Linked DNA regions of Homo sapiens. The protein of the gene in region 2 purifies or fractionates together with the protein of the main gene of each other region. This does not show direct contact. Each region holds a gene or a part of one and is shown on either strand. Other genes may lie near its edges.

Region 1 (4,018 bases), on a different chromosome or scaffold from region 2:
GGGGTCCCAAGCCCAAATGTGGGATAGTCCATCCTCAGAGCTGTCCTTCCTACACCCCTGTTCTCCTCCCGGGCCGGGATGCAGCGCTGCCCCTGGCCCCTCTGGAGCTCAGCAGGGAGCCCCATGCCCTTCCAGGTGTGGAGAGCAGCCTGCGTGTCACTGGCTGCCGCCAGATCTTACGGAGCCTCCCAGAGCACAACTACGTCGTCCTCCGCTACCTCATGGGCTTCCTGCATGCGGTGAGTGGGGAAGGGGGGAGCTTGGGGTGAAGCCCAGTGGCCTTCCCTCCCATGCTGGGCCCGCATGGACCAGTCCCCTCCTTGCCCTGGGTCTGGGGTCATGCCCTGCTTGGGCCTCGGAATACCACTCCCTGCCCCCCAAGGACCTCATCCAAGGCCTGGTCAGGCACCCATGCTGCTGCGGACCTCCTGCCTGTCAGACAGGGCGTACCTGCCCCTGCCTGCTCCTGTACCTGCTGTCCCTCAGCCATTGCCAGTGACTTTTGTTATTGGGGTCCTCTGCCCCCATGTCATTTCCTGCTTGGGCTGAGTCTCTAGGAGGTGGGAGCTGTGTCCACCACTGGTACAGAGCCCAGTGGACTGAGCTGACCATTCCTGGGGAAGGGATACACCCAGAACCACGTACATTAAGTTCCTGTGACTGCATCGTGGGTGCCTTAAAACAGATTTACTGTGTCACTCTTCTAGAGGCTAGCAGTCCAAAAGCAAGGTGTGGCGGGCTGTGCTCCTTCCAGAGGCTCTAGGGAAGGTTCCCCTTCCTGGCCTCTCCCAGCTCCTGGTCACTCCAGCTATGCCTCCAGCTCCCCCCTGGCCTTTGTCTGTGTGTGTGTCTAATCTCCCTCCACCTTTCCCTCCTAAGTGTGGACCCCCTGCCATATGTCACTGGGTTTAGGACCCACCCAGATGACGCGGGATGATCTCATCTTGAGATCCTCAACGACAGCTGCAACGGCCCTCGTTCCAAATAAGGTCACAGTCAGATTCTCTGTGGTCTATCTTAGAGGGGCCACCATTCAATCTACTACACACCAGGCTAAGCAAATGACCAGAGAGAGAGAAACCCTTCAGTGCTCTGGGCCTGGGCTTAGTGTGCTCTCCCCCTGGGGCAGGGATCCATTTGGAGCAAAAACCTGTGCAGCCAACAGGGGAAGGTTCAACACATCCACGTGGGTCCACCCCCAACCCCCAGACCCACGGCCTTGAATGTTTAACCCCCTCCATCTCTCCAGGCCTTCGCCCCAGGCTGTGCAGGGTGAGGAGAGCCTGAGCAGAGTAGGCGTCACATCCCAGAGTCTGTTGGAGAATGTCACTTCTTGGTTTTACAACAATTTTTTTTCTCCCTGTTGCTTGACATAATTTCTCAGAGGCCCAAAACTAAACTCTCCTAATTCTCTCAAAAAAATTTTTTGAGACAGTCTTGCTCTGTTGCCCTAGCTGGTGTGCACTGGTGCAATCTCAGCTCACTGCAACCCCAGCCTCCCACGTAGCTGGGATTACAGGTGAGAACCACCATGCCCGGCTAATTTTTGTTTTTTTAGTAGAGATGGGGTTTCGTCACATTGGCCAGGCTGATCTTGAACTCCTGACCTCAGGTGATCCACCTGCCTCGGCCTCTTAAGAGTGCTGGGATTACAGGTGTGAGCCACTGCACCCAGCCTACTTCTTTTTCATTAGGAGAGACTGATTTCTCTCTCTAGCCGCCACCTCCATGGGCACCGATGTGAATGCACCTGGTGGGGTGTGGTGTTGCGTGTTATCACCCCAGTGGCACCTGGGGGCCTCGGCTTGAGGAGGGGTGGCCTGCAGTGGGCCTGGCTGGTGCACACCTGCAACGGGCTTGGGGGACCGGCAGCCAGGGGGAGCCTGAAAGGCATCCAGCCATCTCACCTGAGCATCCTCAACAGATCTGTGAGGGTGGTGCCTGGCCCTGCCTCCCTCCAGTTCTCTGCTCTGCCCTGGTACTCACCGCCTCATGACCCCTGTTTCTGACTGAGGTTCCCCCCAGCTTGAATCTTGTAGGGAGGCAAGGAGCAGAGAACAGGCCCTGCCCTCACGTTGGTCCACATGGCCCCCTGCCACTGGCTGGCCACATGACCTTGGGCAAGTCTCCTGTACCTTCCAGGCCCCAGATTCCTCATCTGTAAGATGGGGAGTAATGACTCCCCCGTGCTGGGGTTGCACGTGTTGGCGGAGATGGACAAGGAGCCCCTTCTAGCAGGCAAGCTCTTTCCACTCTCCCTGCCCCTCGTAGTGGCCCCTAGATGTGCTGGCTGGTCCCCATCATGCCCAGTTCGCCACTCACAGAGCCGAGGCCAGAGAGGTCACCAAGTTCGTACCGTCTGTGCTACAGCCCATCCCCAAGATTGCATCTCCCCAGAAGGTGCAGTGGAAGAGGAGATAGTGGGGGGTTGAGGCTGTCACAGAAGGTCAGAGCCAGAGGGTCCTCCAGGACATGGAGGCCAAGCCTTCCTTTTAGAGATAGGGTAACTAAGGCCCTGAGTGGGCAGGTGGCTGCACAGGGTCCCCATTACTGGCTGCCGGCTCCCAGTCCAGTGCTCCTCTCACTACACCTACGCCTCTCCCTAAGTTCGGGAGGGAGTTCCAGGTGCCCGTGCCCCTTGGTGTTCACTCCCCTTTACTTGTGTGTGGTTTCCTCCAGGTGTCCCGGGAGAGCATCTTCAACAAAATGAACAGCTCTAACCTGGCCTGTGTCTTCGGGCTGAATTTGATCTGGCCATCCCAGGGGGTCTCCTCCCTGAGTGCCCTTGTGCCCCTGAACATGTTCACTGAACTGCTGATCGAGTACTATGAAAAGATCTTCAGCACCCCGGAGGCACCTGGGGAGCACGGCCTGGCACCATGGGAACAGGGGAGCAGGGCAGCCCCTTTGCAGGAGGCTGTGCCACGGACACAAGCCACGGGCCTCACCAAGCCTACCCTACCTCCGAGTCCCCTGATGGCAGCCAGAAGACGTCTCTAGTGTTGCGAACACTCTGTATATTTCGAGCTACCTCCCACACCTGTCTGTGCACTTGTATGTTTTGTAAACTTGGCATCTGTAAAAATAACCAGCCATTAGATGAATTCAGAACCTTCTAATGAAAACTCCATGCCTCTGGTCCTTGGACTCTTGTCCATGGTTCCTGAGCTGTGGACCGGGATAGAATAATGCATTTGTTAGGATGGATGTTTTGAATCCCAACCCAATGTGGTTTAACTGAAAACAGGAATGGAGTGGCTAACGGCTGCCAGGTCCTGCTGCTGCCACACTGCTGTGTAACACACCACCTAAGCCCAGTCACTGAAAGTTACTGCCCAGGAGTCAGTGGGTCAGCTGGGTGGTTCTATTGGTCTTTTGAGGGGGTCACTTACATGTCCTGGCTGAGCTGGCTGGCAGCTGGGGTGACTCTGTTCTCCCCCAGGTGTCCCAAGTCCTTCCAATGGCCAAACGGGGCACATTCTTACAACATAGGTCCAGGTGCACACACAAGCGCTATTGCAAGCAGTTTTCATGCTTTGACTGGCGTCCTGTATGCTCACATCTCATTGGCCAAAGCAAGCCTGGTGGCCAAGGCCAGGGTCACAGAGGGAGGGCCCTGCAAAGGGGGTGGATATGGGGAGGGTGAAGAATTGGGCATAAAGCAGCCAAGCTGCCCGAGGGCTCTGGGGTGCGACAGGACTCTGCAGTCTCAGGCAGGCTGACTCTTGGGCTGGCAAAACGGGCCCTGTATTTCCATCAGATATGGTAGAGAAGGATACAACTTCTTAGTGCCACAGTCCCAGCAAAAAAGCCCCAGGTTCACCCTGATTGGACAAGCCTAGGTCACATGCTCACCTTAGACCCATTGCTGCAGCCAGGGAAGGCTCTGATTGGCTTAGGCCTGAGTCTTGTGCCCCACCCAGACCAGGCAGTGGGGGAGGAGTGGCAGGCCGCTGCAGGGGATTACCCACGAGTCCCACGCTGCCGTCTCCCCAGCTCTTGATGCAGGGAGAAGCGG
Region 2 (8,308 bases):
TCCTCCACAAATGCGTGTGGAGGAGCTAGCCAGGCATATGCAGAGCGTCACTTACAGCCGAACACAGCACTACTGCTTGCATGTTTAATGAGAATTGAGCAGTCTGGAAAACAAGTCACAAACTTGAGCTCTTGTTTGTTCATTTGTCTTGGTGCTGCTCCTTGTTCTTTGGAATAAATGCTTGTCACTTAGGAAGACTCAAGGTGGCCTATCGGTGAGTCCATGTTACTGGGGATGGTTGGCCCCTTCTTGAAGGCAGGGACAAAGAGCACAAGTTTGGCCACATGTAGTTCATTGCGTAAATAGTGATTTATTATTTCTCCACACTTGGGCCCTGGAGCCTCTGTGGCCCTGGCTCACGTACTGTTAGTCTAGAATGTATTCTTCATTTGCGCCGTGGTATGAGTTGCCTTCGTGCTTATTCTGACAGCTGTGGCTGATGACCTTGTGAAACACAGTGGCTGCCTTTGCCACACTGCACCCGTGCTTGTTAGTGGTTCTATGAGAACTGATCTTTAAGACCCCCCATTGCCAGTATTAGGCTGTGGTAAGTTTTTGGTGACTTCTTTTCTTAAATATTCTGTCAAAGTAACAATGTCTGCCGACAGCTCAGGTAGATGAAGGCATAGCTCATGTTTCATGCTTGGTTTGTATGTCTGCAGCTTTGCCAAATGCTTGAGATCTGATGAATTTTGAGACACGGGAAAGAATATAAATGAGAGGATTATGTAGTGGGGATTTACGTCATTTTTATGACTTAAAAGTTTTAATTTTTCAAAAGGTATTTTGTAAGTTTTAGGTAAAGGAAACATTTAACTATGGAAATTTACATAAATGTTGTATCATGCTACCACCAGTGCATTTTCCAGCCTGTGGCCAGGAAAGACAGAGCCTGCAGAGAAGAGAGGAGGAAATGGACAGTGTAAGAAGGATGCCAGTGAGGGGATTTTACTTCTGTACATAGCAGGGAAGGCTTTGGCAGCTTTCTGTGGCCAGAAGATAAGGGCGTTCCAGGGAAGGTTATTTTGACCTTTTCCCAAGATGGTTAACTGGCAGGGCATTTTGCTCCAGCTTTCATTTTCTTGGAAGTTTATTACTATTATTATTATTTTAAACAGGGGCATGAACATTTTATAGCTAGAAGAGACTGACAGGTTCATGGTGGGAAGGGAGGGAAGGCAGGAGGAAAGGAACCTTGTTCGCCTTTGGCTTGATAGTTTGAAGGTAGTGGTTTTTGATTACAAAACCTTTGCCTCAGGAGCGTGGCAGGAAGAGGGGGTAGATGAGCTAATGCTCAGAGAGGAGACAGCTGGATCCTGAGGTGGTTGTATTGTCTCTACCCCATTGGTTTGATGTGTGTCACTTAAAAAAAAATTAACATTCCAGAATAATACCTAAAGCATTGTATCCTTTTTTGCTCCTTCTGAATACATTAGAGCTACCTATAAATAAACTGTGTTTGAGAGTAGGAGCTATGATCTGAATTTTGAATTTTTTTTCTTGCATTTAGCTAACCAAGGGAATCCCAATGTAGATTCAAATGTCATTGTGGTCCTGGGCTTGTCTAGCTTCACCTTCACCCCAGTCTGAGGCACAGTCTTAAGAAATCCTTCAGTCCTCACCCCTGGGGTGGGTGGAGACAGCTGGCGTCCCTTGGGGATTTAGAAAACTCATACCTTAACTGATAAGCTAGGGTTGTAACCTTATGCCAGTGACATCAATGTTCACAATAGGTGAATATGTTGTAAAAATAAGAGCCAATAAGTATTATTTCACAGCCTAAATTAAAAAGTCCCTGATCTGTTTTTCCAGGAACAATCTTGTCTTAGTGATTTGGTAAGGTCTTGGTAACATCTGGAAATCTACTTTATAAATCACTTTATGATTCACTTTCCTTATTCTGCATATTATGTTAACATAACAAGTTATGCAATGTTAGCATTCCTATAAATATATTTATAGGTTTCTAAAGGGATCTTAATTGTAAATATTTATCCTCATTAGAGGGTAAGTTTTTTAACATATGCTAAGTTTTAGAGTGTAGTGTTTAATATATGAGGGACATCAGAATAGCCTAATACATTTATTGATTGATTATATGAAGCCCATTTAATCCTTGAAATACCCCTATGATGTAGATACTATTTTTCTTGCTGTGTTACAGATAAGGAAATTGCATATGGAGATATTTACCTAAGTTCATGTAATCGAAATTAGTGAAATTGAGATTTGCACTCAGATTCTAATGCCTACTGAGGCTTGTGCTATAAAGGGGATCTTTGTAACCTGGGGGAGTCACATCACAGACCTCTGTTGTAAGTGAGTTGACATTGGAGCCAGGCCTTACTATAGCTGTGGTCATCGGATTTCCTCAGAAACACTTGGGAGTGAAATAACGATGCCCCAGGTCCCCTTCCAGACTTTCTCCCAAACAGATCATGCCTATTTTGTGACTCTAATTGACTACCAAATTTTTTAAACATCGCATTTACAGTTTCAAATTTTAATTATTCCAAATCCCTATAGTAATTTGCTATGGGCTGGGTGATGTGAAAAGTCTTTTGAGTATGAAATCTAAGGTCAAATCCCAGCTATGACAATTCTTAAGAAAGTAGACAAAATATTTATACTTGAATCTGATCTCTTAAACTCTTGCTTGAGGAAGCCATTGGCTATGATCAACTTTTTATATTTAAATATATATATATTTGTATATGTATCATGTGCAAATGTGTGTGTAGGACTATGTGTAGGCATATAGATATACGAAGGTGTGTGGATACATATATTTATATGTGATTTGTTTATATTCCTTAAATATGCATAGATCTGTAATTGCTATGCTTTTACTCCTGGTGACATTTGGTCCAGTCCACTTTTAATTTGCTGAGGCAGGACTGGCTGTCTTACAGTTGCAACATGTAAATGTTTGGCTACTGGCGATATTTTTTAATTACCTTAAAGATTTTGGTTTAAGAGAACTTCATGAGTCAAAGTAAGAAATTTCCGAAATTTAGAGAGTTGTATGATTTTAACAGCCTGTTGGAATTCATGTGGATTTGGGGTGAGGATTTGGGAGGATTGGTTGGACATGATTAAAGTTTTTCAGTATGTTTTTGGTAGCCACAAAAGTTCCTTTCTGTTTGTAAGGTATAGACGTTATTCCCCCAAATATCATAGCATAGGGAGGCCATTAAAAAAAAAAAACTAACTTTTTATTTTAGAATAGCTTTAGATTTACAATAAAGTTGTAAAGATAGTACAGAGAGTTCCTATATTCCTGTACCCAGATTCCCTATTGTTTTTGTTTGTTTGTTTGTTTGTTTGTTTGTGAGACAGGGTCTTGCTCTGTTGCCCAGGCTGGACTGTAGCCTCGACCTCCCGTTCTCAGAGGATCTTCCCACCTCAGCCTCCTGAGGAGCTGGGCCACCAAGCTCAGCTAATCAAAAAAAAAAAAAAAAAAAAAAAAAAAAAAAATATATATATATATATGGTTGGGTTGGGTGTAGTGGTTCACACCTGTAATCCCAGCACTTTGGGAGGCCAAGGCAGGCAGATCCCTTGAGCCCAGGAATTCAAGACCAGCCTGGGCAACATGGTGAAACCCCATCTCTATTAGCAGTACCAAAATTAGCCGGGTGCAGTGGTGCACGCCTGTAATCCCGGCTACTTGGGAGGCTGAGGCACAAGAATCGCTTGAACCAGAAGGTGGAGGTTGCAATGAGTCGAGATCACGCCACTGCACTCCAGCCTGGGCGACAGAGTGAGACTCTGTCTCAAAAAAATATGTTTTGTAGAGACAAGGTCTCACTGTGTTGCCTAGGCTGCTCTTGCAATCCTGGGCTTAAGTGATCCTCCCACCTTGGCCTCCGAAGTGCTGGGATTACCAGCATGAGCCACCATGCCCAGCTGGATTCCCTAACATTAACATTTGATATTCCTGCAGTACATTTGTCACAACCAAAGAACCAACATTGGTACGTTACTATTAACTAAACCACACTTTATTCATATTTCACTAGCTTTTCCCTAATGTCCTTTTTCTGTTCCAAAATCCAAACTAGGATACCAATTACATTTTGTTGTCTTGTCTCCTTTGGCTCCTCTAGTCTATAGCAGTTTCTCAACTTTGTTTTTAATGACCTTGACAGTTTTGAGGAGCACTGGTCAGATATTTTGGTAGAATGTCCCTCAATTTTGATTCATTTGATGTTTTTCTCATTGTTGGATCGGGGTTGTGAAATTTCAAGAGGAAGGTCACAAGGGTCATTCTCATTACATCATATCAAAGGTACATGTTATTAACATGATGTCATTAATGACATTAATCTTGATCACCTGGCTGAGACACAGTCGTCAGGTCTCTCCATTGTAAAGTTACTCTTCCCCCTCTATACTCTCCTCATAAGAAGCAGAGTACTAAGTGCAGCCACATTCAAGAGGATGTTGGGAGTTAAACACCTTACATAGATACTCTCCACATCATATTCAACAGCATGTGGAGAATGTCTATGAAAGGTAGGGTATTTTTTATTCAGTAAATTGTAACCTGTACTCTGCTTTAAAAACATGCCTTGCCACTGTATTCTCTATGGTTTCTTTGTTTACTGAGTTTGTGGATGGTAAGTTCCTATACTAGAGAGATTTCCCAGGGCAGTGAGGATTTTAGGGCTGTATTTTTGACCTCCTCAATGTGTGTCTAATATGACACATCTGATGCAGTCCCCTGTCCAGAACCCATAGCTAAAATGAAGGGCAGGAAACACCAGCTAGCAAGAACTGGAGACCACAACTCTGGATATTAGGATTCCTGGGTAGGTAAGGATTTATTCTTTTAAACACCTCAACTTAAAAATATCTTGACCATTTTATAATGTAGTCCTTCTGAAATATATAATTTAACAGTTTTCTTAATGAGTGTGCTGGAATGATGTTTTCCTAATTTATAAGTTAGAACAGCTTTTTACTCTTCCACTGGAGGTCTAGACTGTAGCATTATTTGAGTTTTGATCTGTTTTTATTGTATTTTGAATCTTTTCTCTGTCAGCCATCATTTCTTGCTGCTATCAGTTTGCCTGCCTCCAGCAGTTTCCTTTCTGATTTGCTGTTTATAGCCTTCTGTTAATTTAGAATCCAGACAATGAAACTTGTTAGGAATGTATACAGAGGTAGTCAATACAGTATAAAATAGGATCTGAGAGCTGGAATTCTAAGCAAGTGTAAGCTCTAAGCATGTTAGTGAATGGCCTCCACCACATTTACGCAACTGCCCAGGAATTTTATTTTTCAAATTTTTTTTTGTTTTTGCTGGTTCTCACCTGTTGTGAAACGGTGAGACTGGCTTACTTGCATTATGGTTATTTCAGTAGGCCTGCTGCAGGCAAACTGCTTTATGTAGTGTGCCCTAAACACATTGTGGATGCCTACGAGTCCATGATTCAAATTTATAAAAATGTAGATATTGAGCCTTTTGAGTCAATATTTGATGTTTACAGAGAATTTAGTGATTGGTTTTTAAAATAGTATCCTAAATGCACAAAAATTAGCCTTCCCAGCAATGCATTTATATTTGTATATAAGATCCTAGTCACTGCTTTTGAAAATGACCAAAGCAGAGGCATAATACTTGCATTTAAAATTAAGCAAAGAAACAGCCAAAGCTAGAACATATAATATGCTTGAGAATTTATTTTAATCATGCTTTATTGGAAAAGTAGGAAAACCCTATACATAGAGTAAGAATTACAGATGGCTCTCACATTCTAACATGAATTTGGTATTGGATTGTGCATAGCTAGTTAATACACATCTATAGAGTCAGTACCAGAGGGAGATTAAAGTGCCAGGGTACTTCAGACCAGGACATAGATAAAACAAAGTGCAAACCAATTAGAACAGTTATATCATTAAGGATTAAAGATTTCTTAATGGTTAATTTAATTCATGTAGTAATTGTTTCCAGAGAGTCAACCCCTGCAGAGATACTAAGGAGAGTCTAAGGCTGTGTTGGTGGTGAAGCCACACCATGTAATCCAGACACAGACTCCTTTAGAATATTATTAATAATAGTTATCTGTAGGTGGTTTTAGGGGAAACAAAGTAGGATAATTAGAGGGATGATTTAAGGGAGCGGCTAGTAAGGGTATTGATAATGGTTCATTCAGGACCAGAACACATCCTTTACAGTACTTCCTGCAATTTGCAAAAGAAAGAAAAGCACCTCAGACTTTTAAGAATCCAGTGAGAGTAAATTCTCATATTTAATGGTGATTTTTGCTTTTTGGTGGATCCATATTGGGCCCAAATTGTTATAGACCAACTACAGCAGCTAATATGAGGTTTGGTAATCTAATATCCACTTTTCATCTTAATTCATTGACTTTCCTTATCGTGATAACTATAGTTTAAGAATGGAGATGTCAAATATAGGTCTCTTCCTTGTGAAGTAAACGACAGTTCATTTAACAGCAGTGGTGTGCTTGGTATCATTTCGTTGCATTTTGTTTGAACTCTAAAAATTATTCTTGAGAATAGCATTTTCATATTTCTGTCTTGATGATAGCAGTAATTCTGGATTTGCTTCTGTCTGTTTTTTGTTTTTAGTTTTTATGTTCCTGCTACAGATATTTTAAGTTTTACTTTTTATACTTACAAGCAGCAACATCAGATTTTTTTTCTATTGTAACACTTTTTCTGATTATAAAGAAATTTCTTTAAATAACATTCAGGAAATGTGTTTAAATAACACTTGGAAAATATAGGAATGGTATAAAAAAAGAAATTACCAACACCCCAATTATATAACCACTTGTTAATATTGTAATGTACTACTACTTTTATTCATATTTTTACATTATTGAAATACTATTGAACTGCACTTTTTAAAAATTAACATTATGAGTATTTTTCCATGGATGGTATGAATTCTTTGAAGACATATACATATGTTTTTTAATTGGCTAAAAAATGTTTTGTCATGTGAATGTGTTAAAATGTGTTATATCATATCTGTATTGTTGGCTGGTTCATTTCTAATTTCCGCTATTAAAAGCAATTCAGAGAACATCTTTTTGAGTTTTTTTTTTTCCTGTAATTCAGATACTTTTTTTGGATAATAGCGGTAGAAATTGACTTACTGGCTCAAACAATAGGACCATTTTTCTTCCTTTATTGACCTCCACTGAAAATAAATGTCATTGTACAACAAGTGCTAAATCATTCTTTTTCTTTTTTCCTCAGCTCACTACCCTGGGAAATCTTACACCTTCAAGCACTGTGTTTTTCTGCTGTGATATGCAGGAAAGGTTCAGACCAGCCATCAAGTATTTTGGGGATATTATTAGCGTGGGACAGAGATTGGTATGCTTGTTTACTTATTTGGTCATATTTGCTGAATCATCATATACACTCATATATACACATATATGTATATAGCTAATTGTTTTTGTGTTTGGTTATTTTTTTTCAGTTGCAAGGGGCCCGGATTTTAGGAATTCCTGTTATTGTAACAGAACAATACCCTAAAGGTCTTGGGAGCACGGTTCAAGAAATTGATTTAACAGGTGTAAAACTGGTACTTCCAAAGACCAAGTTTTCAATGGTATTACCAGAAGTAGAAGCGGCATTAGCAGAGATTCCCGGAGTCAGGAGTGTTGTATTATTTGGAGTAGAAGTAAGTACCTGTTACTATCATTTAGGCACAATATTATTTATAGAAAACTCAATATTTGTGGAATGTAATTTCATATATGGTATGCCAGGTAGGCAGTAATAATGAGGAAAGGTAGCCACCATGTATTATGTTCACTATTTGCATGGCACTGATCTGAACATTTTATAGCTGTTTATTTATTAAGTCCCTTAAGCCAAGTAAGAGCTAAATACTCAGTAGTCTCCCCATATTAAAGAGGATACTAAAATACCGAGATGTTGTGTAACTGACTTGAATGTATGTAAGCTGATTGATTCTTGGTCCTGTATTTTTAACTACTACTTTTGGAATACATTTTCACCAAAGGCATTATTTTAATGTATGTGTTGTAGGATTTCAGTTAGGTCATATTTTTGTGCTAGAAGAACCTTGGAGGTCATGTAGTTCATTGTCCTTCAAATCATGTATGTATCTTTTTACAGGGGAAAAATACTAATGGATTCCTATTGCTGATTTCAATTGATTTATTCCTAGCTTTTAAACAACTATTAAACTAAAATTTTAAAAATTAAGAAAAAACCACTAAAACAATGAAATCAAAATATTAATTTAATGTGATTATGACAATTTGAAGGTAACTTTTATAGTAGTAGGTTT

What was found.
Region 1: the proteins of ISOC1 (region 2) and ARHGAP8 purify together in Homo sapiens (affinity purification with mass spectrometry; 2 studies listed by BioGRID and IntAct, with this or other methods). This does not show direct contact.

What each region holds. Positions count from the first base shown.
Region 1 is NC_000022.11:44,859,596-44,863,613, forward strand, and holds the end of ARHGAP8 (rho GTPase-activating protein 8), read left to right. Parts: intron 1-135; coding exon 136-239; intron 240-2,679; coding exon 2,680-3,000; 3' UTR 3,001-3,189; downstream 3,190-4,018. Other genes in the region: PRR5-ARHGAP8 fusion protein, read left to right, coding at 136-239, 2,680-3,000.
Region 2 is NC_000005.10:129,097,717-129,106,024, forward strand, and holds part of ISOC1 (isochorismatase domain-containing protein 1), read left to right. Parts: exon of another isoform or gene 1-50; intron 51-7,239; coding exon 7,240-7,359; intron 7,360-7,468; coding exon 7,469-7,672; intron 7,673-8,308.